Linked DNA regions of Homo sapiens. The protein of the gene in region 1 interacts with the protein of each later gene in a pairwise test. Each region holds a gene or a part of one and is shown in the gene's direction. Other genes may lie near its edges. The genes, in order: SYT17, CEP63, ZNF438, MAD1L1, SDCBP2, CCDC102B and MEOX2.

Region 1 (4,284 bases):
ATGTTGATGTCATTCGAGCCAAGCAACTTCTTCAGACAGATGTGAGCCAAGGTTCAGGTACCGTGTGATTCCCCTCTTCTCTCACTTTATTAATGGGGCATCTGTGTTTGTGTGGAGAACCCAGTTTTCTTTTTCCGTATCCTGGATGAGCATTACTCATCTCAGGATGAGGCAGGTAAATGATGCCATCTTAGTAACCCTATTGGAATTGGGGAGTTGACTGAGACTGGTTGTGATAACTACTGGAAACTTAAAACCTATTTGAACCCAAGGAAGTGACTTGGCCTTTCCAAATGCTATTCCTGCAATGTAGACGCCATCCTGCAGGTGGCGATAGTGTGCATTGACTATCCATTCTAATCAATGAGCGTGGAGGACACACCCTAAGGTTTTTCGCCAGCTCATTTCATGTGTGCCATAAATTTTTATGAATTCCAACTCTGAAAAGACTTGTATTTAAAGTGTGTATATTATAGCAAAAACCATTCAAACATGACTTTTAATGGAACGGAACAGATTCCATTCCATCTGCATGTTGCTTCTTCCATGACAGCAAAGGATATTACTGTGAAAGCAGCTGTAGTCAGGGATCTGTTCAGCTCAGTGGTGGAATTATTGTCTTCTCTAAGTGCGGTAGCTAAAATAAATTACTTTTGCAATAAGGTGACAGCTAGAAGACACCTTGCATTCTCAAAAGCCACATTATAAAAACAGAGGCTTAGAAAGGGCCAGTGGAGGCAATGGTATTAAGACTGAAGAGTTTCAGACTCACCACGATGGGAGAGTCAGTATGATAAAATCATTAAGGGTTTAGGAGTCAAATGATGTGGCTTACAAATGATGTGGCTTTAGGGAAGTTACTTAACCACTATGTGCCTCAATTTCTCAATCTCAAAAACTGACATAATAACAGTATTCATCTTGATAAGTTGTTTAAACAAATATTAAATTAGATAATGTACATGAATCCCTTTGTAAACTGTAAAATGATCTAAAAATGAATTATAATTCTGCCATCTCTATTCACCTGTATATGGGCTATGGGCTCACTGAAATGATAATGGGTTTCCACAGACAGAAATCCAGGGCAGGCTCTGAGTCTGGTTCTGTGTCCACCAGCAAGATCTTTAAAAACTGATTTCTCACCTTGAGTCCTCAGTTTTCTTATCTGTAAAATGAACACAATGCTGACATATGGGAGGAGCTCAACAAATATTAGATGGCTAAAGGAAGAAGGAAGGGGATAAGCAGATGAATGGGAAAATGGATGGATAATAGATGGATGGATGGTTGAACTGTCAAATAGATGAGAAATTGGATGGATAGAAAATGGATAGATAAAAGTATGGTGAGATGATGAATGGATCAGTGAACTGACGGATGGAAAGATGGATGGATGGATAAACAGGTGGATGAATGGACGGACTATGAGATGAATGAAAAGTTGAATGGGTGGATGGATAGAAGAATGGAGGAATAAAAAGACAGATGGATGGGAGGTTGAATGGCAGAATGACTGGACGGATTAGGTTTCATGATCTCCAACATTCTATGATGCTGTGTCTAATTTTCAGACCCCTTTGTGAAAATCCAGCTGGTGCATGGACTCAAACTTGTGAAAACCAAGAAGACGTCCTTCTTAAGGGGCACAATTGATCCTTTCTACAATGAATCCTTCAGCTTCAAAGTTCCCCAAGAAGAACTGGAAAATGCCAGCCTAGTGTTTACAGGTAGGTAGCATTCCAAAACCCGATGAACTCCAGGTGAGGCACGTCAAACTTACTGTCCTAGAGCCAGAAGGCATCTAGAGAGAGTTACATTTAAGAACGTAATGTCTGGCATTCAACTACCTGGGTTTGAACCCACTTAACATCTATGAACTGGGGCAGGACTCATAGAGCCCTATAATATAATTGTTAGAAATGTGGACTTGAGCCAAATTTCCTCAGACTGCCACATAATAACTGAGGTCTTTGGCAAGTTACTTAACTCCTCTGAGCTTCAGTTTCCTCATCTACAAAATGTGAACAATAATAGTACGTGTGGCATAGGTTTGTTGTGAACAGTAAATGACTTACGACTTTGCAATATACTTGGTACATAATAAGTACTCACTATGTGTTAGTTTTGATGATGATGGTGGTGATGATTCAAGTTCCCTGCAGTCAAATAGAGAGGCATATGAAAAAACAGTGTCACCTAACTCAGAAAAAGGGATTTTTAAAGTCTTCCCAGAGGATGTAGTATTTAAGTAGAGGCTTCATGTGACACTGTCTGGTAGAATTTAGTCCATTTTTCCAGGGTGTAATCTAATGTAGTATTTCCAGGGTATATTAGTTATTTATTGCAGCATAATAAATCACCCCAAAATTTAGTAGCTTGAAACAACAAACATTTATATCTCATAGTCCCTGTGGGTCAGAAATTCAGGTATACAAAGCTTTGCTGTATAGTTCTGTGTGAATACCTCTGACAAGGCTGCAATCAAGGTATTGGCTGAGGCTGCAGCCTCATCTGAAGGCTCAACTGGGGGAGGATCTCTTTTCAAGCTCACTCACAGTTTTCAGCATGATTTAGTTCCCTGCAGGCTGTTGAACTGGGGACCTCAGTTCCTTCCTGGTTGTTGGCCAGTGACCTTCCTCAATTCCTTGCCACATGGGCTTTACCATAGAACAACTCACAACATGACTTTCATCAGAGTGGTCAAGTGAGGGAGCAAGAATGGCAAGGAAGAGTCTTTTTGTAATCTAATACTGGAAATGACATCCTATTACTTTCATTATATTCTATTCACTAGAAGCAATTCACTAGGTCCAGCCCACACTCAAGAGGAAGGGATTACACAAGGGTAGGAAGAGTGGGAGGTGGGAACCACTGGGACTCATCTTAGAAGCTACTCACCACAACAGGGATAGAGTTAGTAGGAGTAATGGTTATTCTTTCTTGTGTTCTAATTACAGTATGTACTTCCCTATATCATTGCTAACATTCACCATAACCCACCCTGTCAAGTTGATATCTTCATCCTCAACTTACAGATCTAGGGACTGAGGCTTAAAACCTAAACAACCTACACAAAGTCTCAAGCTGATAGAATCAGGACTCAAGCTCTGGTCTTGCCAGCTCCACATATCAAGGGATCTATATTTCCTCAAACACCCAGGTAGGGCTAGAACTGGGGATCGACATCATCCTTTGAGACATCCTTCTCCAGGGTAACTGGAAACTCTCCTCTGGTTAGATCTTGTCTAGAACCCTGGGCTCCAGGTCTCCCAAGAAATCAATCCATGGCTGAAAAACCCTTGCATACAAGATTTCCCCTATATAAACTTATTGCTCCTTCTCACCAAGATTGCAAATGTCTATCCTCTGAGACCCCTTCGAAGCAGGTTGGTTCTGGGTTTTCTCAAGGCCTGTCACCCATAGAGTCTGCGTTGAATCAGGGGATGCCTGCCATATGCAGATATAATGATCCCTTCTAATGCAGTCTGTGATGGCTGCTGTCCGGATGGAGTTACAAATAGACAAGGGCCTCACTCTCTCCTAGGTTTCAGGCCAAGACAGAAGACCGTCACCCCTGACTCCTTAAATGGTGGACAGGCAGGTAGTGGGGCCTATTGTATATTAAACCAAGACACAGATAAAAAATGAAGTCTCTTTTCCCAAGTCCCTGCTGAGAATAAGGGACCTCCTATTGTAAGCTTAGATGAGGAGAGGACCCCAGGGGAAACTGAGAGCCCCCATGGAAAGCCCTGACACTTCATATTTTACTTAACATTTTATGATAAATGTAGCACACACGTGTTATAATGAGTGACACCATGAAAAGATGTGTAAGGACAGAGAATCAGAGGAGAACAGGGGTTATGTGCCTGTGCTGGGGAGCTGATGTCTGGGTCCTGGCTTTACCACTCACCTACTTTGGTGACCCTGGGCAAGATCTGCGTGCTTAGGTTTTCTCAGCTGTAAAATGGGGATAACAATACAGGACACTTCACAGGATTGTTATTTGCATTCAGTGAGATCAATAAACACACGGTGCTGAGCACTGTGCCACCCATAGTAAGCACTCTAGAACTGTTAACTGTTATTAAAGGGAAAGTTTAGTGTTTTCCTTTTTTCTCCCACACACATGGGGCAGCCACCACCTTCTCACTCCCTCATGCAGTTTTGTTTATTTCAGAGTGTTTTCTTGCTGTGTAATCCTTCTCCCCGCTTTTTTTTTTTTGAGACAATCTCATTCTGATGCCCAGCTGGAGTGCCATGGCATGATCTCGGCTCACT
Region 2 (4,022 bases), on another chromosome or scaffold:
TGCAGGAACTTTCTTTAGGGGAAATGTGTAGAAGCATGGATTTAGGGGTCAAACATACCTGGATCGATAGACTGGTTTTGCCACTTACCAGCCAACGGGGCTTGTTATTTACTGGGCTGGTAGCCCCTCCTAGCCAAGGGGCTGGTAGTGTGTAAAGTCAGGCTGGTAGTGAATAAGGGGGGGGTGTGCTAAAGAACCTTATCAAGCAGTCCTCTCTTGCTCAACACTCATGCAGAGGAGAGAGGCAGGGAGGGCAAGGGACTGGCTGTCATGCACGGTGCCCATGGAATATCCATTGGAAATAAATGTTCATCGTCTGCACTGCTGAGGACAAGTTTAGATGGGAGACAAAGATCTGGATGTTGATGTGCCGCAGGCATTTGAAACGATGGGAGTTGATAAGATCCACCAGGGAGGCTGTGGAGAGAGAGAGGAGCAGGAGGCTGGGTTTGGGGCCCTGAAAGATGCCAGCATCTGAGGATCACAGGAAATAGATCTAGCAAAGGAACTAGAATGTGCAGTTACAGATGAGAAAGGTCAGTGTAGTGTACTTGCCAGCTCAAGGGTGTGGCCTCTGTGAACCCTCTTTCTGTAGTGGATCTTTCCCATCAGCGTAAAACATCCTGTTATTTCCCCTTTTTAAATAAAACCTCAGTTTTTTTTAATGCCTCTCTTTTACTGCTCTGTATGTTTGCTTCCCTTCACCCAAACACTTCTGGAAAGAGTTGTCTGCAGTGACTCTTTCCAGTTCCTCACCCCGCCCCACCGTAGTTCTCTTCCTAACCCTCTCCAACACCACTTCCATCCCCAGACTGCTTTCTTGCTCTTGAGTTCACCAGTGACCTAATCAGTGTCTGAGCATCATTCAGCACAGTTGGACTCTCTCTTGGCTTCTGTGACCTGGAACTTCTGGTTTCCTCTCTACCTCATCCTCCACTCCATCTCATGGCTTTTCCTCTTCTAACCTCTAAGTCAGAGGGCCCCCTAGAGCTCTGTCATGGGTTTTCTCCCTCAGCATTCTCTTCCCTAGAAGTTTCCATTCCATTCTCAAGCTCTTAATACCACCTATAGGCCAGTGACCCTTACATTTATTACTAATCTTGACCTCTCCCCAGAGCTGCTGTCTTAGATACCTAGCTGCTTATGCGATGTCTTCACTTGGATATCTGACAAACATCTTGTTTCCAAGAGAGAACTCTTTATTCTCCCTCTTGCTAAGATTCCATATCAGGACATAGCATTATGTTTGCCAGTTCCTAGGAGTTACTTATAATTCCTTCCTTACCCACATCCGCATATCCAGTCATTTGGGAGGTCCTGTCATTTCTTCCCCCAGAATCTTATCTCAGACCCAACCGTTTCCCTCCTGCACTTCTACCACCTGATCCAGACTACTTCTCTCTCACCCTGATTCTGGCAGTAGCCTCCTAACTGATAGTACTCACACCAGTAATTCAGGGAGCTTCTGGAGTTATCCTTTAGAAATGTAAATGAAACAGTGTCACCACTGCTTCCCTTCAGACTCTTCCAAGGCTTCTCTTTTTTTTTTTATTGAGACAGAGTCTCACTCTGTCGCCCAAGCTGCAGTACAGTGGCAGGATCTCGGCTCTCTGCAACCTCCACCTCCCGGGCTCAAGTGATTCTCCTGCCTTAGCTTCCCGAGTAGCTGGGATTACAGGCGCATGCCACCAGGCCCAGCTAATTTTTGTATTTTTAGTAGGAACAGGGTTTCACCATGTTGGTCAGGCTGATCTCGAACTCCTGACCTCAAGTGATCCACCCGCCTGAGCTTCCCAAAGTGCTGGGTTATAAGCGTGAGCCACTGCACCCAGCCCCAAGGCTTCTTACTGCACTCAGAATAAAATCCAAATGAATTAGTATAGCCTACAGAGTGTCAATAATCTGGGCCTAATCACCCATTGCATCATCCTTTACTGTGCTCCACCCATGCTGGCGTCCTTTCTGTTTATTGAGTGCAGCAAGCTTTAACCTGTTCGGGTCTTTCATTTGCAGTTTACCCTGAATATTCCCTTTCTCTTACCTCACCTTTGATTGGCGTTTTCCCCCTTGCAGACCTGCACTCTGGCATCCTCTCCTGAGCAAGCCTTCTTTGATTGCTGCCTCCCAAACCTGTTTCTCCCCATTTCTCTAGCTCATTGGCCTGTGTTACTTGCTTCATAGTGCTCACTACTATCTGAAATCATTTCATTACTTGATTTATGTTTGTACTGTCTATTTCTGTCTTTAGAATTAAAACTCCTTGAGGGCAAGGACTTTGCTTCTCTGGTTCATGGTGGGATCCTCATCACCCAGCACAAGCCCAACACTTAGGAGAGGCTCAGCTAGTTTGAACCAATGGAAAATGCCATTCCTGAGGTGCACCACATCGTTTCTTTTGTGTTGGTGTGCATGCTGTCCTTCAGTTTGTCTCCTCTTCCCACACCCTGTCATGTGCTCCTAAAACTCCCCCTTTACTTGGCTACTTTATCTGGCTTGGCAAAGCTTTCCCATATCCCCTGACCCATGTCAGGGAACGTTTCTCCTCATTGCTGTCATGGCACCCTGTGTGTGGCTCTGACCAGACTTTGCTATCCGCTTTGATTTCTGTCTTTCAGGGGCTAAGTCCTGCCTACATCCTCAGTCAGCATGCTGCCTAACACATAACAGATCCTAAGCAAATATTGGGTGGATGAAAATCACTACCATTCAAGGCTTCATTGTATTTATCAGTAAAACTGAAATAATATCTAATGGGGTCGAGAAGATTTACTGAAAATATATATTTGAAAGGGCTTTGCAGTTTTAAGTACTGTACCTATGTGCATTGCTGTTACATTCAGGAGATTTCTGAGTTTTAGACAGTCCCAAGCTTCAGCTTAAAATCTGTAGACTGCAGCCCGTTTCTGAAACGTTTGTACTACGTGTTGACTAGGAGGAACAATGACAGACTCTGTAGTCACCGGAAATACTTAAGGAATCATGAGGTACTATGTATTTCCTTAAATTATACTGTTTTTTAAAGCTGAAGTATCTAATAGTTAATGGGTTGTCCAAATTTGTCAGAACATTTGACTGTAATTTAATGTCTCACCATTTTTCAAAAAGATATATTAATACCAAATATTAAAATGTGTCAAGACTAAATCTGAGTTAGTGTCTTAACACACATTTTCCAAAATCTGTCCGTGATCAGGGTACCCAAATGAGATGAAAAGATTAGGGATTTGTAGTCTACATCTGGTGTTTACAGATAATGTTTTATTGGGCAAGTCATCTCATTCTTCTTGTCCTGGATTCCCATGAATTTTCATCTGGATTCCTACGCAGATTTTAGCTGAAGAGGGCAAAGTTGACTTCCCACTGTGGGCTGGACATTACCTTCCCTTGCAGACTCATTTGATCTCAACAAGTGTAGAAAAAATACTACAACACTCTGTTTCTGTGACATCTGCTTAAACCCAAACAATTCTTACCTTCTCTCTCTTACATACACATAACACCTGGTAAACTGTGGGTGATGATTTTCTGTTTGCAAAACACTCGAGTCCAGTACCTAAAAGTTGCAGATAAGAAAGATAATTATAAAATAAGCTCTATGGCATGAGAACATACGTTAAGCAAACAGTTGTCATGAACAGCACTGAAATGTAGAAAAAGTTAGAAATGTGTCAGCTTGTCCCAAAACAGTTTGAAATAGTATAAATGCATCAAAAAGTAACAAACAGAATCGGGGCAGAGGGAAAATGAGGGCTGTAAACATTGATTCACTAATGAATCTAGTTGTCCAGTCCAGTTGCTAGAGGAAGGCAGCCAAGTTACCTCTGAGCTTCAGAGGGGGAAAAGCAGAGGAGAAAACATTTACCTAAAAGTTTTATGGTGCCCATAAGATAAAAAAAAAAAAAAATCATAGACTTAAGAAAAGCACAGATTTTTTTTGTGTGTTTGAATAAGCGTTTTGTAAAGTATGTGAGTATCCAGAAGAGAAGTCCAACATTTTCATAACTGGTAATAATAATCTGCAC
Region 3 (4,284 bases), on another chromosome or scaffold:
GGTGCTGTTTACTGAGGAAAATTACAAATTTAGTTTTGCACAAGTTCTAAATGCCTGTTAGACATAGTCATAACAACAGTGCTAGTAAAAATAGTATTATGTAAGCGTAAACTGAGTCCCAGGCAGGGTTTTAAGTACTTTAACCTATATTAATTCATTTAATCATCATAAGAATTATATGTGCAAGGAACCATTATTGTCCCCATTTTACAGCACGAGAAAATAGAGGCAAAAAGAGGTTATAAGTGACTTGTCTGAAGTCACCCAGCTGGTGAGTGATGTAGCTAGGATTCAAACCTAAGCATTGTGGCTTTGGAGTCCATGCATTGAATCCCTGTAACCACCTCCGAGTGAACATGTTGAGTATGCATGCCTGTGAATATGGAACTCAGGGGAGTGGTCAGGGTTGGAGATACCCATTTATTTTTCTGAAGAGAAAGCATGCTTTTGTTTTTCATCTAAGCTTTGGTTGTCTGTGGGAGAAAGATTATAGGCAGTGGGACTGTGCTAACTGGTCTTTGATTACGACCTGACTGGGTTCATGCAGCCAGTATCTGGTATTCCCCACTGTAGGTTCCGTAGGGGCAAGGTCTGTCTCTTTGACTTCTCTATCTCTAGTCCCTAATCCAGTGCCTGCTGTGTAGTAGATGTTAGGGATGACTTTATATAATGGGCATTTGGTTAGGTTTTGGAAGTTCAGAGATGAATAAAACAGTTCTTTACCTTAGAGGAGCAGGGTATGAGGAAAAACCTGTGGGAATAAAATTAGAGTAGACTAAATGCATAAATACATGCCGATTAGTTCATTTGGGTTTTCTGCACCCTCCCCTCCCCAGCTTCCATGACTTGTGAGATGGGGCATGAAAAGGGCAAAGGGGCAAAAGAATGCCTAAGCTGTTGCAGGATGAAGTTGAGGCTCCCCAAGAGTCCTTTTCAACAAAAGAATTACTCAAAATCATGCATATTTTACTATATTTGCATTAGCTTTATTTGGCAATGATAGAATTTTTACCAAATGAAATAAATTCTGATATTTGACTGTCCTTTTGAAGTGATGAGTTTTTCCAGTTCTATTACCTCAGTGTTGACAGGGCTCACCAGAGAAATAAGGGAGTTGGCTTGAAATGTTGCAGCTTGCATAATAGAGGGTGATGGAGGGGTTGGGTGAAGTATTCAGGCAGGTTTCCACCGGTTTAAGTGTGTCATGCCAAAGTTCCACCTATTGGAATAAGTTTGAGTTTCTTTGCTGACCATCTCTAACATTGACATGTATTTTTTTTTTGTCATAGAAAGGGGATCTGGTGATATATATTGTAGGTGGAATTGCAGATTACATCTCGTATAGCTGGATCATTGTAGAACATGGAGACTAGAAAAATACAAACAAAAAAAGATGTGTCTTGTTCCCGTAGATCTTTCATGGCATACCATAACCTCAACAGTTGTCACAATTTTGTTACTTCCTAACATGAGTATTTCAAATTTAAACCATGTAAGAATTATATAAAATTGCACTGCCGTAGATTTTATGGTTAATTTCAGAATTTTTAAAAATATATAAAATTATATTTTGTTTTAAGCTTTCATTGGGAAAGTATCTAAATAACCAGATCTATGATTACTCTAAACAGAAGCCCTCTACTAACGTAAATGTAGAGGGGTGCCATCTCATTTTGCAGTTCACAACGTTTTAAATCTGCTCTTGTAGCTTCCCTACATTTAATGGAGTTGAAATGATTAGTCTTTATTTACACCACATTTGCAGTTAGTTTCCCAGGAACATCAGATACCCATATATGGTATAAAGTAAAATTGCATAGTCAATAGCCTATTGATGCTCAGGTGTTATTGACTTTTAAGTTCAGGCACAGTGAGGGCAGGTTGATGGTTATTTAATTGTGTCAGGTAGCTCCCAGCAGAGGGGGAGTGATGGTAAGTTCTATCTGAAAACAACAGGACCCTCTGTTTCTAACACTGACCATGCGAAATATAACATCCTAGATAGTAAATAAAATTCAGATTCCTTTTAAAATTTACATTTGCACAAGCAAATTTTAAACTATTTTATGAGTACTTTTATATATATGAAGATTTATTGTTGAAAACAGTGTGTCTAGCCCAGTGATAGTACATACTGAGCATTTAAATATAATTCTTTTTTTAATTAAATTTATTTTTTAAATTATACTTTAAGTTCTAGGGTACATGAGCACAACATGCAGGTTTGTTACATATGTATACATGTCCCATGTTGGTGTGCTGCACCCATTAACTCGTCATTTACATTAGGTATGTCTCCTAATGCTATCCCTTCCCCCTCCCCCGACCCCACGACAGGCACTGGTATGTGATGGTCCCCACCCTGTGTCCAAGTGTTCTCATTGTTCAATTCCCACCTGTGAGTGAGAACATGTGGTGTGTGGTTTTCTGTCCTTGTGAAAGTTTGCTCAGAATGATGGTTTCCAGCTTCATCCATGTCTCTACAAAGGACATGAACTCATCCTTTTTTTATGGCTGCATAGTATTCCATGGTGTATATGTGCCACATTTTCTTAATCCAGTCTATCATTGATGGACATTTGGGTTGGTTCCAAGTCTTTGCTATTGTGAATAGTGCCACAATAAACATACGTGTGCATGTCTCTTTATGGCAGCATGATTTATAGTCCTTTGGGTATATACCCAGTCATGGGATGGCTGGGCCAAATGGTATTTCTAGTTCTAGATCCTTGAGGAATCGCCACACTGTCTTCCACAGTGTTTGAACTAGTTTACAGTCCCACCAACAATGTAAAAGTGTTCCTATTTCTCCACATCCTCTCCAGCACCTGTTGTTTCCTGACTTTTTAATGATCGCCAATCTAACTGGTGTGAAATGGTATCTCATTGTGGTTTTGATTTGCATTTCTCTGATGGCCAGTGATGATGAGCATTTTTTCATGTGTCTGTTGGCTGCATAAATGTCTTCTTTTGAGAAGTGTCTGTTCATATCCTTTGCACACTTGTTGATGGGGTTGTTTGATTTTTTCTTGTAAATTTGTTTAAGTTCTTTGTAGATTGTGGATATTAGCCCTTTGTCAGATGGGTAGATTGCAAAAATTTTCTCCCATTCTGTAGGTTGCCTGTTCACTCTTTATGGTAGTTTCTTTTGCTGTGCAGAAGCTCTTTAGTTTAATTAGATCCCATTTGTCAGTTTTGGCTTTTGTTGCCATTGCTTTTGGTGTTTTAGACATGAAGTCCTTGCCCATGCCTATGTCCTGAATGGTATTGCCTAGGTTTTCTTCCAGGGTTTTTATGGTTTTAGGTCTAACATGTAAGTCTTTAATCCATCTTGAATTAATTTTGGTATAAAGTGTAAGGAAGGAATCCAGTTTCAGCTTTCTCAATATGGCTAGCCAGTTTTCCCAGCACCGTTTATTAAATAGGGAATCCTTTCCCCATTTCTTGTTTTTGTCAAAATTCTACTTCTTGCAATCACTTTTATTTTTGCATTATTATCTTCAACTCATATATATTTGTAGTAGTAGCTGGATGCTTGTTTGTGTACTTTACACTCTAAATGTTTGAATATATTTAAATAATTTATATAAGTAGCACTTATTTTTGCTTCATTTCACATTTGGTTGCTTAAAAATTAAAATCTTTAGGTTTGATTTTAACACATTACACTAATGGCTAATAATTAGTAAGTCTAGGTGGAGACTAAGCTTTAGTGACAGGTTAACCAAGTTTTAACCCCAAAAGAACACCCAGAAGAAAATTCTTAGGGAATAGTAAGCAAAACCAGTATGTCGATGAAAGGAATAATTTAACCATAACTACGTAGCTATTATTCTTCAAGTTGTTACTATTCTACAGGGAGTATTTTCTTATTTGGTTCTTCAATTGCAAAGCTATTAATTTCAGTCTGCATTGCAAGCCACCAAGCAGTGTGAAATAAATACTGGAAGATGATACTGTGAAGAATCTGAACTCAGAATGATTTTTTACTTTCCAACACACTCTGGGGACATTTGGCAATGTCTAGAAAACATTTTTGGTTGTCACATTTGTGTGTGGGGACATTACTCCTAGCATCTAGTGGATTGAGGCCATTATAGCATGTCACTGAATGTCCCACAATGTACAAGACAACTTCTCAACAACAGAAAATTATCCAGTTCAAAATGTCAGTACTCCTGATGTTGAGAAATTCTGTAATATCTTTTCTTCCTTCACTCCCTCCTTCCTTCTGTTCCTCCTTTTTTATTTTTTTATTTTTTTGCTTTAGAAATGGAGGTGGTA
Region 4 (4,284 bases), on another chromosome or scaffold:
CTGTTGAGGGTGTGTGCTGGTGGCCGGGAGGTGGTGGCAGGCTGACTACCTGCCATTTTCCTGCAGTGCCTAGGCCCAGGAGAGGGAGCAGCCCCCGGTCAGGACCCAGCTGCAGGACACCCCATCCTCATGGACCTTGCTTCCCGCTCTCCGTCCCCCCACAAATGGGCTCCCAGCATAACTTCCCCCGAGGGCTCCTTTCCTCTCCCCACACAGAGCCCTGCTCCGGAGCGGCGCTTGCAGCACACCAATGACAGGAGGATTGGGCTTCAGGGAAGCAGGCGCCTGGAGCTGTGTCCAGTTAGGTGCGTGGCGCTTGCAGATCCAAGCATGAAATATTCATGCCTCCCCCGGCCCAGCAGCTGCGGCTTCTCATCTGGAACAAGGGGGTGCTTCTCCCAGGAAGGCCAGTGGGAGCAGGGGTGTGTCTGAGAATGCCTGGGCGCTCTGCCCTCACGATGGCCGCTGATGCCACAGGCCCGGCCTCTGTGCCCAGGCCACTCTCCAGCCTGGTGAGGTCTGTTCTGGGAAAAGAGAGAAGCAAGACAGATGTGGGCCTTGCCCTGTGGGGCCAGGGCACAGGCAGGAATCCCACTTGGGGTTAAGACGCTGCAGTCACCCCTCCAGGTGCCAGGGTCCCCTGTGGCCGTGGCGTTCTAGGAGAGATGGGCAGGGAGACGCTGGCGCCCTGTCGTGTAGCTTATCCTTGTATCTGCTTCACAGGCTCTTCCACTGTGCAATTTCCTAAAATTTTGGCGAGGCCCATTTATCCATTTTAATTTTATTCTGTGGATTGTGCTTTGGTGTTGAGTGTCAGAGCTCTGCCTCATCCAGATCCTGAAGATTTCTTTTTTAACATAATTCTGTGTTTTACATGTAAGTTCGTGATACAGTTTGAGTTAAATTTTATTTGAGATGTGAGGTTTCGGTCAAAAAAATTTTTTTTTAACTAAGTGTGTCCAGCTCCTCCGGCTCCAGCTGTAGCAAAGACAAGGCTGCCCTTCCTCCACTGAAGCGCCTTTGTGACTTTTCTGTGACTTTTCCGTATCGATTAATAGGGTCATATGTTGTTTATTCTTTAGCCTGTTGATATAGCAGATTACATTGATTGATTTTCAAATACCAAGCTAGCCTCGTACACCTAAACGAAGTCCCACTTGGTCACGGCATAATATTCTCTGTTAGAAAGTGGCCTGGACGCGTCTGTGGGTCTCTTTCGAGTTCCTCTGTTCTGTTCTGCTGGTCTCCACATCTCCCCTCCAGCGCTGCCCCAGCCATGTCTGTCTGACGTAGGAGCCGTATAACGCTGTGCTGTAGCTGTACGGTTCTCAACATCAGGAAGGGCAATTCCTCTACTCTTCTTTTTTGGAATTGCTTTCTATATACATTTTAGAATAATCTTGTGTCTCTCTACCAAAAAAAAAAAAAAAAAATGCTGGCCGGGCATGGTGGCTCACGCCTGTAATCCCAACACTTGGGGAAGCCAAGGCAAAAGGATCGCTTGAGCCCAGGAGTTGGGAGACCAGCCTGGGCAACACAGGGAGACCCCATCTCTATGAAAAAAATACAGCCATGAGTGGTGGTGCGCACCTGTAGTTACAGCTACTTGGCACGTTGAGGCAGGAAGATTGCCTGAGGCTGCAGTGAGCCAAGACCACACCACTGCACTCCAGCCTGGGTGACAGAATAAGACCCTCTTTCCAAAAAAAAAAAAAAAATATATATATATATGCTGAGGTTTGGACAGCAATTACCTTAAAACCAAAGATCAATTTTGGAAAAATTGATTTACTATAAGTCTTCCAGTTCATAAACATTGTATCTATTTATACAAACATTCTTTTTATTCCTTTCGATTCCTTTCATCAGTATTTCCTAACTTTCTGCAAACAGACACTATACAAGTTTTTGTTAGATGTATACCCGAGTATTTAAGATGTTCTGTAAATTATATTGCCTTTTAATTTTGTTTTTCACTTGTTTGCAATTGCTTTATAGAAATGTGGTTAATTTTTGTATGTTCATCTTATTTCCTGCAACCTTCGTGGACTCACTTAGTGTTCCAGGAGTTTTCTGCAGATTGCTCAGGATTTTCCACGTGGGCCGTCACGTCATTCTAGGAGTTTTCTGCAGATTGCTTAGGGTTTTCCACGTGTGCCGTCATGTGATTTCCGAGTAGGGACAGTTCTGTTCTTTTCCAATCCCTATGCTGCTGCTTTCCTTTTCTTACCTGCATGCCCTGGCGTGAGGAGCTCCCATGCTGGGTTGAGGATGAGTGGGGAAAGCCAGCTCTCCGCTGACCGAATGAGGGAAGGCGGCCAGACTCTTCCGTGAAGCAGCGTGAGCTGAGGGTTCTTCGTGGTGCTTTTTACCAAGTCGGAGGACTTTCCCTTGATTCCTGCTTTGCAAGAGTTCTTGTCAGGAATGGAGATTAAATTTTTTCAAATGCTTTGCCTGTGCCAATAGGATCATATCATTGTCTTCCTTTAGCCTGTTGATAGGGTGGATAACATTGATTGATTTTCAAATTTGAACTAGCCGTCGTTGTACACCTAAACTGAATCCCACTTGGTCAGGGTGTGATACTCTTTTTCGTGTGTTGCTGGATTCCATTTGTTAGTCCTTGTTGAGTATTTTTGCAGCTAAGCTCATGAGAGACTGATACTTATTTTTCTTTGTGTGCGCACCATCCTTGTTGGTTTCAGTACAGGGTTCATAGTGGAAAGGTGTTTCTCTGTCTTTTGTTAACTGAAAAAGGATTGTGTAAAATTGGTATTAATTCATATTTAATGTTCGGTAAAACTTTCTAGTGAAACCATCTGGGACTGGAGATTTTGAGTAGCATTTTAATTAGAACAAACTTGATTTATTTAATGGTTATAGGACTACCGAGGCTATTTTATCTTGGCACGTTTTGGTAGTATGTGGTTTTCGAGGAATCCATCCAGTTTGTTATGAGCATCAAGTTTTGTTGTAGTATTTTTTATTGTTATTTTAATAGCTTCTGGATCTATTATAATATTTCCATTTCATTTCTGATATTGGTCATTTCACTCTCCCCCCCCCCTTTTTTTTTTTTTGAGATGGAGTCTCGCTGTGTTGCTCAGGCTGGAGTGCAGTGGCACGATCTCGGCTCACTGCAAGCTCCGCCTCCTGGGTTCATGCCATTCTCCTGCCTCAGCCTCCCAAGGAGCTGGGACTACAGGCACCCGCCACCACACCCGGCTAATTTTTTGTATTTTTAGTAGAGATGGGGTTTCACTGTGTTAGCCAGGATGGTCTTGATCTCCTGACCTCGTGATCCGCCCACCTCGGCCTCCCAAAGTGCTGGGATTACAGGCGTTCCCCCTTTTTAATCTTTGTCAGTTTTGCCAGGGGTTTATCAATTTATCGTTGCTGGTCTTTCTAACAAATTTTTGAGACAGGGTTTCACTCTGTTGCCCAGGCTGGAGTGCAGTGGTGTGATCATAGCTCACTACAGCCTCAAACTCCTAGGCCCACGTGATCCCACATACCTGGGGCTACAGGTGTATGCCACCACACCTGGCTGATTGATTATAGGGATGGGGTCTCACTGTGTTGTCCAGGCTGGTCTCAAACTCCAGGGCTCAAGTGATCCTCTCACCTTGGCCTCCCAAAGTGCAAAGATTACAGGTGTGAGCCCTGCTCCTGGCCGGCCTTATTGCTATTTTTTAAAGAAGCAGTTTTTGGTTTTAATAACTTTTGTTTTCCTGTTCATTCCTACTTGTATTATTTCCTCCTCCTGCTTCGGGCTTGTTTTTCCCTTCGTTTCTTGAAGTAGGAATTTAGAGAAGCGATTTGAGATCTTTCTCCTTTCCTGATACAGGCATTGAGTGCTGTCCGTTTCCCTCTAAGCACTGCCTTGGGTGCGTCTGGCAAATTTCATTATGCTGTATTCTTGTTTCCATTCTGTTCTCTTTTTTATTTCCTTCGAGGCATCCCATTTGACTCGTGGATTACTTAGAAGTGTGCTGTTTAATTTCCAGGCACTTACAGTTTTCCTGTTGTCTTTCTCTGACTGGTTTCTGGTTTTGATGTCCACTGGTGTGGCCTCCACCTCTTCACGCCACCCCACAGATGAACAGCATTCACATAACTTCCCAGTATCTCGAAGTAGCATCGTTTCCATTTCCTGCGTGTCTTCTCATTTTACTGCATTATTTCAGCTTTCCTTGTTTGAGCCAGGATTCAGGGCTTCCTTCATTCCATCTCTAGCTTCCTCCCCTCGAGTTTCCCAGTTCATGGAGTTTCTCTTGGACCCTC
Region 5 (3,515 bases), on another chromosome or scaffold:
GTCCCCAGGACAGCTCACTGTCCCTCCTGCCAGGCCGTTCCAGCGGACTGTCACCATGCACAAGGACAGCATGGGCCACGTCGGCTTCGTGATCAAGAAGGGGAAGATTGTCTCTCTGGTCAAAGGGAGTTCTGCGGCCCGCAACGGGCTCCTCACCAACCACTACGTGTGTGAGGTGGACGGGCAGAATGTTATCGGGCTGAAGGTAGGCTGGTGGCCGCACCAGGGAGGGACTGCCGGGTGGTGGGAGGGCTCAGGTCTTTGGGCAGCTTGCTTACCCCACCTGAGCCTCAGCATCCTCTTCCTAAGGTTGCTGTGAGGGTTCAGTAAGACGGTGTTCGTAGGGCTGGGTGCGGTGACTCACGTCTGTAATCCCAGTGCTTTGAGAGGCCAAAGCAGGAGGATCACTAAGTCCAGGAGCACGAGACCAGCCTGGGCAATGTGAAACCCTCTTTCCACAAAAAAAACTAAAAAATTAGCCAAGCGTGGTGGTGCACACCTGTAGTCCTAGCTACTCAGGAGGCTGAGGTGGGAGGACTAATTGAGCCTGGGAGGTCAAGGATGCAGTGAGCTATGATCATGCCACTGCACTCCAGCCTGGGCAACAGAGAGAGACCCTGTCTCCAAAAAAAAAAAAAAAAGACAGTGTACCTAGAGCTCTGAGCACAGTGCCAGGCACATAGCAGGTGCTTAATACATAATAGCTATTGCTGGCTGCATGGACACCTCCTTGCTCTGTATGGCACTTTTTTTGGTATAGTGGATCATGTTCAGTAGTTTAGGAATGTTTTAGAAAATCGTTATTCAGAAATCCATGGGGTCGTGAGGTTCTTCAGAACTGGGTTTGTCCCAGCCAGCCACACTTCTTGAGATCGTTTGTCTTTTCAAAGTTTATTTCCACCTGTGGCCATCACTAGTCCTGTCTAGCACATCTTCTCACATTTATTTTCGAACAACCAAGAAAACACATAACCAGATAACATACATGTGTAATGTAAAGGTCAATAGGCTCTGAGTGAGGGCCAGAGGCTCTTCTATGGCCATAACGTTAGTGTTTGGACCACCTGGCACGCTTTGCGTAGAGACTTTTAATTTCTTGTTCTTCCCATGATCTAAGTGGTGTCTGCAGGCCCATCTCTTTTTATCAAACAAGCAAATGTAAGAGGATGTAAGAGGAGGAGGATCCTTATGGCCCTGGAGGCAGCAGGAGCCAGAGGGTGGATGGGTACGCCTAGTACCTCCCACAGGATGGGGAGGCATTTATGCTTTGAGGCCAGAACCCAAATGTGACTGTGGGCTTGGTGAGTCTCTGGGAGCCCTTGGAAGGGGGAGGAGAATCGCATTGATGAGGCCCTGTTACGCGTCAGGCTCACACCGCTGGCCTTCAAGCTGAGGGTGGGAAGAGGCATGCTCATTTGACCAAGGAGATCCTCAGGTGGGAGACCCATGTTCTCACTCAAGCAAGACCTTACCTGGGAGTCTGCTGGGACCCTCATCTGACAGGCTCGGGGTCCGAGGCAGCCCTGCCCTGCAGTCAGCCATCAGTGGTGTCCTCTAGCAGTGGCCATGCTGATCCCTCCACAGAGGGGCCTGTAGAGTTGCCCCTGGTCCCCAATCCTTAGGGTGATCGCTTACTTGCCTCCTCCCTAGGACAAAAAGATCATGGAGATTCTGGCCACGGCTGGGAACGTTGTCACCCTGACCATCATCCCCAGTGTGATCTACGAGCACATGGTCAAAAAGTAAGGCTGCACCCCTCCTCACCCCTCCTCACCCCTCCTCTGCCATCCCCTTCACCTCCCGGCCTCCCAGGTGCACCTGGCTCAGCCACTTCCACTTTCTCAGTGCTGACACAGGGCACAGGCTCAGCCAGCTCTATCCTCCCTTCCCCTCCCTCCAAGGTAGCTTGTGGCTTCTGGTGATTCGAAAGTCTTAGAACTGGGAGTGAAGGCCCACATGGGATGCACTGGCTCGGAAGGGGGTGGAGGTTGCTGGAGGGTGGAGAGAAGGAGCTGCCAACCTGGTCACTGTTGTTGCTGTATCCAGGTTGCCTCCAGTCCTGCTCCACCACACCATGGACCACTCCATCCCAGATGCCTGAAGCCACTGCAGGGCAGGGCAGGCAGGGGGGGCTTCCCGCCCTCCTGCAGCAAAGGGCAACCACCCTCGGATGATGGGTTGCAGCCGGCCTGCTGCTTAAGGTGGGGGCTGCCATGAGGGGGGCGTGTCCAGGAGGGTGACCATGGGATGGCTTATACACACAGGCCTCCTTGGAGCCTCAGACTCCAAGCTAGGCTGAGGCTCAGGCAGGGCCCACAGGCAGCCGATTCTCTTGTGCTGATTTAAATGCTGGACACGGAGGCAGGCTGTTTAAACGCTGCTTAAAGTCGCAACTGGGCCCCTTTCAAGAAATTTTGCTCTACCAGGAAAACAGTTACACATTTTAAGAGAACAGAGCTACGTTCTTTGTGAGAGCTTTTTCCTTGCCTTGACTTGCTCTTTGTCACAGACTGCATAAGTTGTCAGCCTTGACTATCTTTTGAATAAAGATTTGATTTTAAACAAAACCCTGTCCGCAAAGGTAATTGATTCCCCCAAAACTATTGAAAATAAAATAAAAAGGTAACTGAAAATTCTGGAATCCTTGGTCCCCTGACGTGCCAGGGCTGGTTTCCTCTTAAACCGTGGTGAGACCAGGGCCTTTTCTACGCGTGGCCTCTGAGAGCCATGATTTGGCTCTGCCTCTGTCACGTGCCACCTGCCAGCCTGGCGCGGGGATGACTGGAACTGGGGACAGGATGGAACTGTGGGGATGGGGTAGGACTGTGGGGCAGTGGGGCTGACAAAGGGAGCACTGGCTTTGGGGCACCCCCCGTGTGACCGTGGCTGCTTCTGCTTCTGCAAAGTGGGCATGAGAAGCCACTTTAGGGGGTGTTGGGGAAGGTGAGACGCGATGTGCTCATGGCGCCCAGCAGGGTGTGCCATGTGGGGGCAGGGGGAGGTGGCTCCAGACTCTGAGCCTGACCCCAAGAGGGCAGTGGTGCCTCAGCCCCACACAGCTCTCTGCTTCCCTGCACATCAGAGATGATCGCTGCCCACGTGGCTTTTTCCCGTGCGGGTGTTGTGACCCCTGCGCTGGAGGAAGATGGTGTGAACCCTCCCACTGCCTCCCCTTAGAGAAACCACCCAGTATAAAGAAAACAGGCCAAGGGGCTTGCTGTGTTTTCATGCTTTAATTCAGAGTTGTCTGCTGCAGGTACAACTCTGTCTGAACAAAAGGACAAAGGAGACAAGAGTCAAGATCCCTCCCCGCCTCCCCACTTCCCACATCCCCTGAATTCTTCGTGAAGGGGATGGCCTAATATGGGAATGCACTGTGACCTGTTTGCATTGTCCCCCAGGTCAGAGAGGGGGTTGTGAGTTCTCTGGGCAGAGGCCCCTGGGTAGGCCTTGGCCCCAGAACCTTGCAGTTTGTCCCACCCCTCCCCAAAGTGCTGTAAGATACCCCTGCGCTT
Region 6 (4,284 bases), on another chromosome or scaffold:
AAGTTTGACAGCATCTTGGACTTGGTCAGTAAAAATGAATAAATATGTTAATATTAATAGTGGAAAAATCACAATTTTGTGAGATATTTATTACAGAAAAAGTAGTCTTATACATGGACCATTAAGGGCATCAGGCTTTTGCTTAATTGGCCTGGATATTCATCTTTGGTCTGATGTCTTCTAGCTATGTGATGTTGGCTGTTGCCCCTTTGTGAAAATAGCTGTAGTGCTGTTATGTTCCAGTTATCTATTATCTTGAAACAAACTTTTCCAAGTAATTATCATTAAAACATATCAACAGCAACCACCCTGTCTTCTGTTCAAGAATCGCGAGCATGGCTTGGCATGGACATTGTATCTCTCACTTGTGCCTTCAGTTGCAAGGGCTCAAAGGCTGGCAATGCATGGAAGGCTGGGGGCTGCAGCCTCTTTCACTCATATCTGGCAGTCCATCTCGGTTTTCATCTATGCCTCAGTTGGGACACCTGCACTGGGGCTATTTAAGGGGGTGCTTGGCTTCCTCACAACATTGGGGCTAGGTTGCAAGTGAACATCTTAAGAACACAGAGAGAAGAAAACGCCATTTGAATGATTCTGCCTCAAAAGTCAGACCCACTTATCGGTGGTGAGAATCTCAAAGTCTGACTCAGATTAAAGAGAGAGAGGCACTTTCAATGGAAGGAGTGTGAAAACAATTTTATAATAAGGGTGTGTGGGATGCAGTCATTGTGGCAACGATCTTTGCAAAATACAGTCTGTCATAGCCTTTCTCAGTGAATTCTCATAAAGATCAAGAACAAATAACATCTGGGAAAGAGAATAGTAATATGAAATGTTCAATATGGATTTTCGTTTCTATGCAATCAGCTTACAATTTTATTAGCACAATGTGGAATATCTAATATATAAATAAGGTTCCAAAATCTAAAAATAATTATTTTTTATCTCTTAGTTATAAAAATCTTAATAGGCAGAACCAGAAAAGCAAGAAGGATATGTATGCATATATACACACAATGTATTATATAAGTATATATTATATAACAGTTTTAATTTTCCTGGCTTGAATGGACTGAAATAGGGATAAATATGCATGCTAGCCATTCACAAATACAGTAAGTTCTTTACCACTTACTTTCTGCCAGAAGTTTCTCATTAGTCCCTCTGAAATTTACTAGTGCCACCAATTCCCTTTTTCAGATTCTTCATCTGTATTTCACTAGATTAGTAGATTGTGATCATACAAGTATCTATGTACAGAATAAATATTTATTACTCTACCAAGTGTAAATTCCTAATAGAGGCAACCAACATTAGTAGAAAACAGAATAAAAATGAATTTAATTTTTAGGCTCGTACACATAGTGACAATTTTATCTAGCCCTATACATTTCAGTCACATTCTAATCTCCGTGGTTTTACTTCTTGAAGCATTTAACTTTTTGGTAATTATAGACTTCTCTCCAGCCCACATACAATATTACTTCCCCAGTGCAGTCTAATAGGAGCAATGCAGAGCTGTGTTTTTCTAGATGTAAACTTCTATTCTAAGGTGTCAGTTTTAAAGATATGCATGTTCTGTCTTAACACGCTTATCCATATACATATACACAACATATACTTTTTACTTTCTTGGAATAAATGAACAATTCTCAGAGTAAGTACATTCTGCAGTTCTCAGTGACTTCAGTCTATAATCCATAGACAGGCCAAAGAATAAGAGAAAAAAGGAAGCTTTCCATGGCTTTGTCTTCCTACTCTCCTCTTTTAAGAAACAATCCCACGGACGTGATGAGTCATGGTTCCTGTGTCCATGAATCAACATTTGCATGCAATCCGCATGAGGCAATCAGTCTTTTTTTCTATCACAAGAGAACATTTTCCAAGAATATAGGATATGCTATTACTTATAAATCCATCTAATCTTTTAAATTCTTCTTCCTGGAATATCAGTGAGTGGGTGGCTTCGACTGAGATGTGAATGTATTTTTTTCTGCATTCCCATCTAGTGGGAAAATTCTCTTCTTGACTAGTGCACAGAAATCAACTCAGAAAACTCAGGGACTCATTTTTTTCCATTGTCCTTGACTAGAACCTCCTCATCAAATAGATGAAACTTTATAGTTTTCTTTGCACTCTGAGTACTGTTCAGTTTTATGAATAATTATCCAGTGTATAAAAGTTTCTCATATACTGAGAATTTATATATTTCTGTTGACTTTCATAAAGACTTCCCAGGTAGAAAATTTGGAGTAAGGCCAGGAAAGCTGATCCTCTTATAGGCCTATGTGTACCTAAACATTTGGGAAGCTGAGGTTTGGCAATACCAAATCTCAAGTAACAGAGACTGAGATAAAATAATTTGAACTGTCCCAAACTTCAGAATCAGTTTTCAAATTTCACTGCAGAGACCTCCTTTATCACTTGTAAAATGTTTGTTCTGTGTCCTTTAAGCTGAGCTTCAGTCCTCCCTTTCCATTTTATCATTTTATCTTTTTTTTCTTTTCTTTACTTTTTGAGACAGTCTCGCTCTGTTGCCCAGGCTGAAGTGCAGTGGTGCAATGTAAGCTCACTGCAATCTCAGCCTCCTGGGCTCAAGCCATCCTCCCACCTCAGCCTCCCAAGTAGCTGGAATTACAGGCTGTGCCACCACGCCTGGCTAATTTTTTATTTTTTTATTTTTAGTAGAGACGGGGTTTTGCCATATTGCCCAGGCTGGTCTCAAACTCCTGGCCTCAAGTGATCTAACCGCCTTGGCTTCCCAAAGTGCTAGGATTACAGGCGTGAGCCACTGCGCCCAGCCCATTTTGTCTTCTTAATTTATTTTCTATGTAAGAAAAGTAGCATGCTTCATTAAATGTTCAATTTTTTTCTTAATGAGATTTAAAATCCAGGTTAGAAGCTTCAGCAAATTAAAAATGCTACAAAGGATATTATTTTTTATATATGTATGAAAGACACAGATTTCTACTTTACATATTTAAGAAATTATATATATAAAGTATATATATATATATTCCTCAATGAATACATTGACATGCAAATCTGGTTAATACTATTTAATGTAATATTTGTAAATATTTGAAAATCAAGCTTATTTTGTTACTTTATTAACTGTCACTCATGGAATATTCAATAAACCTTTACCATTTTTTGACTCTCCAGTGTCTATTTTGTGTTTTGGCAATTCACTGCCAAATGAAACAGAGTCTACACCTGTGCATAGATTATAAAAATGCCAGTAAGTCTCTACCAGGGTTTCCTTTGCAATGAGGGTACAGACACTTGACTTAGGAATAGTGCATCAGAGGTGGCCACCTAGACTTTTAAGCCAAGCCAATACCGCAAGGCAATAGACAGCATCTAGAATCCATACCTAAGCGAGAAGCAGCAGCAATAAAGACAACTTGTTTCCAGAGGCAGCGGTGGCCTCTGGTGCTTAGTGACACCACTCACTGTCCCGTATTGGTGATCTTGAGGTCCCGCTGTGATGTCTCTACCTTAATGGTGGCCGAAATAGTGTGCTTACAGGAAGATTTTGATGGCTTTCTCATCAGTGTTCCTGGCTGCATGTATTCCCCAGAAATATTTTGAGCTATAATGTCAATTTCCGCTCAAATTTGCTAATTTGAATACGTTTGCTTGCCAGACACATATTACCAGGAGAGTGTAGAGGCAACAGACAGAGGAGGTTACAGGCAGTGGGGTCTTCATGGGACCAGTTTTGTGGCATGAGAGTTGGTCTTGGTCCCTGTCCGCTTCATCTGCAAGCCTTGTTCTATAATTCTCCTGGAGATCTGAGCTTAACAATATTCTTTAAACACTTATCTTTTCTAATTAAATTAACTGTATATGGCTTGGCTGTTTGCAACAGCCGAGTGCTAACACCCAGTGCTGAAAGATGTAATTATGAATAGTAGGAAGTGCAGTTGCAAAATGACATGTATGTTGCTTAAAGTATATTTGTAAAAACTTGTATTGTTAACAGTTTAATACTATCTCTAAATTTTGAACTGTTATAAAAATGAATAACTGCATGTTATTACAAGATAATCATTTGATTTGGTAAGAACATTTTTATATTAATACACCTTTTCAGAAAATCATGATTCAATTTTTTTCCAGTGAAATTTCACACAGTTCAACAATGATTAATATTTATTCCTAGATATTAATTTTTAGGACCTTTCATCTATGAGAAATATTTGAGTAATATTCTTGTCTAGAAATTTAAATTTTATTTCCAATTATTGTGGAATTGTGACAGTAAACAAAGTATCAAAA
Region 7 (4,284 bases), on another chromosome or scaffold:
TTTTTCTTGATTATGTTGATATTTCACTGAGGATAAATTTGCCCTAAGTTATTAGAGCTGGGTATGATTACTTTTTACTTGACGTGTGTGTGTGTGTGTGTTTACTATTGATTCACGTTCTGCTTTTTAGTATATTAAGAATGTCTTCTGACCTACATTTCAGGGGTATTTATGAGGATAAAAGAAATTCTATACGTTAGTTATGTATTGAACCCTTAAGAGGAAAAATGGAATGATATACTCAAAATTGCTATTGGTATTTTACACTGCATTATAAGATTTGATGTTGTGGATCACTGATGTTACATGTTGTGCACCTTATGTTTATCTTATATATAATGAAAAACACATTTAAAAACTCTGTTCATAGTTTAAGTCATATGAACACAATTTCATTTATAGATTCCATGTTGGACTAAGTATAATATAAAATAAAAGAACATTGCTATTGCCCTCAAGAATTTTACTTAAATACAGATAAAAAAGCCAATAAGTACACACATACTTTTACATACGCTCAGTCTGAGCATAAAATTTTTTATGGTCCAGTTGCTAAACGTTTGAATTTCTCAAATACTCCTATATTGAGATGCCACTTTTTAAAGGATTACTATGTTCAATCTTACTTAGACCTCAAGTACGTATGTTCAACAACTTATGAAACAGAACTTCATATCTAAAAGTGTTTTCTAGAGAGGTTTTGGTTTATCTTAATATCATACTACAAGCAGTTAAAGGTTTTGTTAATATTTTATAAGAAGAAAATTACATGCTTTCCCAAATGGACTGTGAGTTACCTGAAGGAAGATGAAAAAAATAAGAATTATATCTCCCCCCGTTGAGCTGCCGTCAGTCTTGCTGTCTTTGGTCTCTATTTGTTCCATGTCTAGCGCAGTACCTGGAAAAGTAGTAATTCAATAACTGTGAATAATATGATTGCATGTGTTTGAATAAATGAGTTATTACCAATTCTGTCTCCCTTTTTTTTCAGACTCCCAGGAAGGAAATTACAAGTCAGAAGTCAACAGCAAACCCAGGAAAGAAAGGACAGCATTTACCAAAGAGCAAATCAGAGAACTTGAAGCAGAATTTGCCCATCATAATTATCTCACCAGACTGAGGCGATACGAGATAGCAGTGAATCTGGATCTCACTGAAAGACAGGTAAAGCTGGGCATTATCATTATATGATCTTTTTTAATTGCCCTGGGTCCACAGTCTTCTTTGCCATATTTGAAATACCTAGATCCAGAATTCTTGAATACCATTTGGAAGACAGTTATACTATTCCATGATAAAATTTTGCCAGCAAAATAACAAAATTAAAAATAATATAGTGATATTTGAAAGAAAACCATACTTATTGAGTTGAAGAAAGAATCCTCCTATGATTATTATCCTTCTGTATTTTTGGGTTTTAAAATATTATTTCTTTTACATAATGATGGCATACAGTGAGGAGTTGTGCATGCTTATATGTTAAAATCTCCTTATTTGGCATATTAGAAAGTTGGTAAACCCAGATTAGTTTTCTGTATTGCTCAGGATAGGTCATGATAAGTTGCAGTAACACATTCACCCTCAAATCTCAATGGCATAACATAAAAATGTTCATTACTTACTCACTCTCCATACAAACTCTACATGTCCAGCATTCCAGATAATCACTCACAGACCCATTCTGACTCTTTAGCATCTCAACATGTGGTGTCCATGGTAACTACAAGAAATAAGAAAGAATTGGAAGTTTATGCACTGACCTTTAAATGTTTTCACCTGGAAATTAGCCATGTCACTTCTATTTACACACTAATGTCTAGAATAGTCAAATGGTGCGGCTTAGGTGCAAGATGGCTGGGAAATGATGAAAGGCAAGGACACATAGATCATTGGTAAATATTTCTGCCCCTTTACCCAAAATATTTTTGAAATTGTATCGGTGTCAGTAATTCAAAATTCTGCTACCCACTCAGAGAATACTTTGAAATTATTAATGTTTTTGGACTCCAATTAATGAGACCTAAATAATATTTTTAAATTAATTGCTTTTTAGGTCCCTTTCTTGCATTTTTTTTGAATGACAAATGATTTGTTCTAACAGTGTTCCCAGTGAATTCCTTGTACAGATTCTTGTTTCCCTGAGGAGAATCTAGCCTACTGCCGGTTAACAGTTGCTAATCTTTACAAAAACATTCCTGAAAGGCAAATGCAAACATCTTTATGGACAGTGCAGTTATGATTGGCACTCTTAGGGCTAGAGTCTCATTTCCTCTTTCACTGTGTGTACCTCCTCCAGGATCCCATTGGAACCAAAGAAATATCAACAGGGTGTGGACAAATGAATGCATGTCTTAAGAGAGCAAGTTATTTTATCCAATTTCTTAAATGACCTGCTTTCCTTCTGTTAATTTTTACATTTCAGCTTTGGTAGGTTATTTATGGGTAGTAGAAATATACAGAGGAACACTTTTCTGTGGTTTTATTTATTGGCAGTTTGTATTTTATTACATATTATGACTAGTACCTATGTTATGGAGCACAGCATTTTCCTTCCCTTAGACTTCACATACAAAATTCCCTCTATGGGTTCAACATTTGGCATGCTGGAAAGCAGGATCCAAAGTCTACATCATCAGACCTCTATTTTATTATTTTTTTTAAACAGGGAACGGAAAATAAAAAGGTGTATGTGGAGGGAGAATTACACACTAATGTTCTTATATAGAGATGGTGAATTCTAGGAAATGCAACCGTGTTTTATATAGTAGATGAAGGAACTAGGAAACTAGGATTTGCTTCCAATCTGTAGAAATGACAGGATCCAGTACTGTGCTCTCAGCCAAGAGGAAAAACAAGATTCTGTACTTGACATTTTGGGGGTGGTCTACGGTTATCTGTCATTGTTTGACCACGGAGCAGAATCATTTATCTTTAGAAGCAGTTTTGTAAATCTGGTTTGAAAACGTTGAAGGTGTCTTGGATATTTCTTCTTTCTAACTGACTTCAGGAGCTTGGTAAAGAATTACATGCAAGAATTATATATACCTATACATACTATTTTAATGTTGTTTTAAAGATTCTTTTAACATTTTGTGTTAGTTACCCTTTGCTGTGTAACAAACCACTCCAAATCTTAATGGCTTCAAATAATAACCAAAGTTTTATTTGCTTTAGGTTTTGTAGGTTAGAGATTTTGACTGGGCTTAGTTGGACAGTAATACTGCTGGCCCTACATGGAACCCTCATGGAGCTCCAGTCAGCTGGTGGGCTGACTAAGAAAGAGATGGTTGGGCCTCAGCTGTGGTTTCATCTTCTTATAGGCTAGCTTGGGATCCTTCCAATGGTGATAGAAGCATTCCCAGGAGCACTGAGGGGGAAAACTCCGGTGAGCAAGGGCTTTTCAGGCCTCTTACGTCATATTTGCTAGTGTCCCATTGTCCAAAGCAAGCCATGTGACCAAACTCAGTGTCAGTGTAGGACAAGATCGCTTCATTGGAAGTCATTCCTGAAATAATCTAACCACAGCATCACAGGGGGGAAATTAACACAGAACATGAGAGATAGTTCAGTTTTCATTGAATTGAAAATTTGTTATTGTGCACAATATATTTTTATTCCATAAATCTCTACGTGCAGTTTTGCAAGTTAATGTGAAAAGATGTATACATGCAGAATTTAAATTCCTAATCAAAACTAAGGCTTTAGAGGGCCTCCCTGGGTTAGTCAAAAAGAATTTAATTGTTATGAAAAAAATCTGAATAAAAATCCAAGGTTTGCTGATTAGAATTGTGTGTTCTTAAGTAAGTAACAATCTCCCCAAGGCATAAAATGGAAATTAAAACCTGCTCTTTCTTCTATGTAGATTTGTATATCATAATGGGTATGAAATAATTTTTAGTGTAAACTATAAAACAGAATTATCACCCAGGTGGGAAAAACCTTTGCTATGCAAAGCATGTTGAATTAATCATTTTGTAACACAAATATTTGTTGAGCTAAGTGCTGGAAGTAAAATCTTAAGCTAAAGAAATACCTGTTAGAATTCATAGAAGAGGTAAAAATTGAACAAATATTCACAATTGTTATGAGTGTAGAATGTCACAGGAGAGGAATGATGTAATTGTATTGGATAATGTTTCTGGTTGCACCATTTCATTCCAACATTTCTATGCACACATATTATCTTAAGTTTCTTAAATTAAGAATCTGTGCACAAAATATCTTAAATTAACAATCAAGCTGGGAGTGGTAGCTCAAGCCTGTACTTGTCCCAGCACTTTGGGA

What was found.
Region 2: the proteins of SYT17 (region 1) and CEP63 interact in binary tests that used the Homo sapiens proteins (3 or more experiments, as listed by UniProt).
Region 3: the proteins of SYT17 (region 1) and ZNF438 interact in binary tests that used the Homo sapiens proteins (3 or more experiments, as listed by UniProt).
Region 4: the proteins of SYT17 (region 1) and MAD1L1 interact in binary tests that used the Homo sapiens proteins (3 or more experiments, as listed by UniProt).
Region 5: the proteins of SYT17 (region 1) and SDCBP2 interact in binary tests that used the Homo sapiens proteins (3 or more experiments, as listed by UniProt).
Region 6: the proteins of SYT17 (region 1) and CCDC102B interact in binary tests that used the Homo sapiens proteins (3 or more experiments, as listed by UniProt).
Region 7: the proteins of SYT17 (region 1) and MEOX2 interact in binary tests that used the Homo sapiens proteins (3 or more experiments, as listed by UniProt).

What each region holds. Positions count from the first base shown.
Region 1 is NC_000016.10:19,223,109-19,227,392, forward strand, and holds part of SYT17 (synaptotagmin-17), read left to right. Parts: coding exon 1-57; intron 58-1,574; coding exon 1,575-1,730; intron 1,731-4,284. UniProt on the Homo sapiens protein: Plays a role in dendrite formation by melanocytes.
Region 2 is NC_000003.12:134,561,888-134,565,909, forward strand, and holds the end of CEP63 (centrosomal protein of 63 kDa), read left to right. Parts: 3' UTR 1-3,144; downstream 3,145-4,022. UniProt on the Homo sapiens protein: Required for normal spindle assembly.
Region 3 is NC_000010.11:31,025,139-31,029,422, reverse strand, and holds part of ZNF438 (zinc finger protein 438), read left to right. Parts: intron 1-4,284. UniProt on the Homo sapiens protein: Isoform 1 acts as a transcriptional repressor.
Region 4 is NC_000007.14:1,819,877-1,824,160, reverse strand, and holds part of MAD1L1 (mitotic spindle assembly checkpoint protein MAD1), read left to right. Parts: intron 1-4,284. UniProt on the Homo sapiens protein: Component of the spindle-assembly checkpoint that prevents the onset of anaphase until all chromosomes are properly aligned at the metaphase plate.
Region 5 is NC_000020.11:1,309,027-1,312,541, reverse strand, and holds the end of SDCBP2 (syntenin-2), read left to right. Parts: intron 1-33; coding exon 34-205; intron 206-1,650; coding exon 1,651-1,742; intron 1,743-2,046; coding exon 2,047-2,101; 3' UTR 2,102-2,633; downstream 2,634-3,515.
Region 6 is NC_000018.10:68,839,236-68,843,519, forward strand, and holds part of CCDC102B (coiled-coil domain-containing protein 102B), read left to right. Parts: intron 1-4,284. UniProt on the Homo sapiens protein: During interphase, forms fibers at the proximal ends of centrioles to maintain centrosome cohesion. During mitosis, dissociates from the centrosome following phosphorylation to allow centrosome separation. Contributes to CROCC/rootletin filament formation.
Region 7 is NC_000007.14:15,623,626-15,627,909, reverse strand, and holds part of MEOX2 (homeobox protein MOX-2), read left to right. Parts: intron 1-991; coding exon 992-1,164; intron 1,165-4,284. UniProt on the Homo sapiens protein: Mesodermal transcription factor that plays a key role in somitogenesis and somitogenesis and limb muscle differentiation. Required during limb development for normal appendicular muscle formation and for the normal regulation of myogenic genes.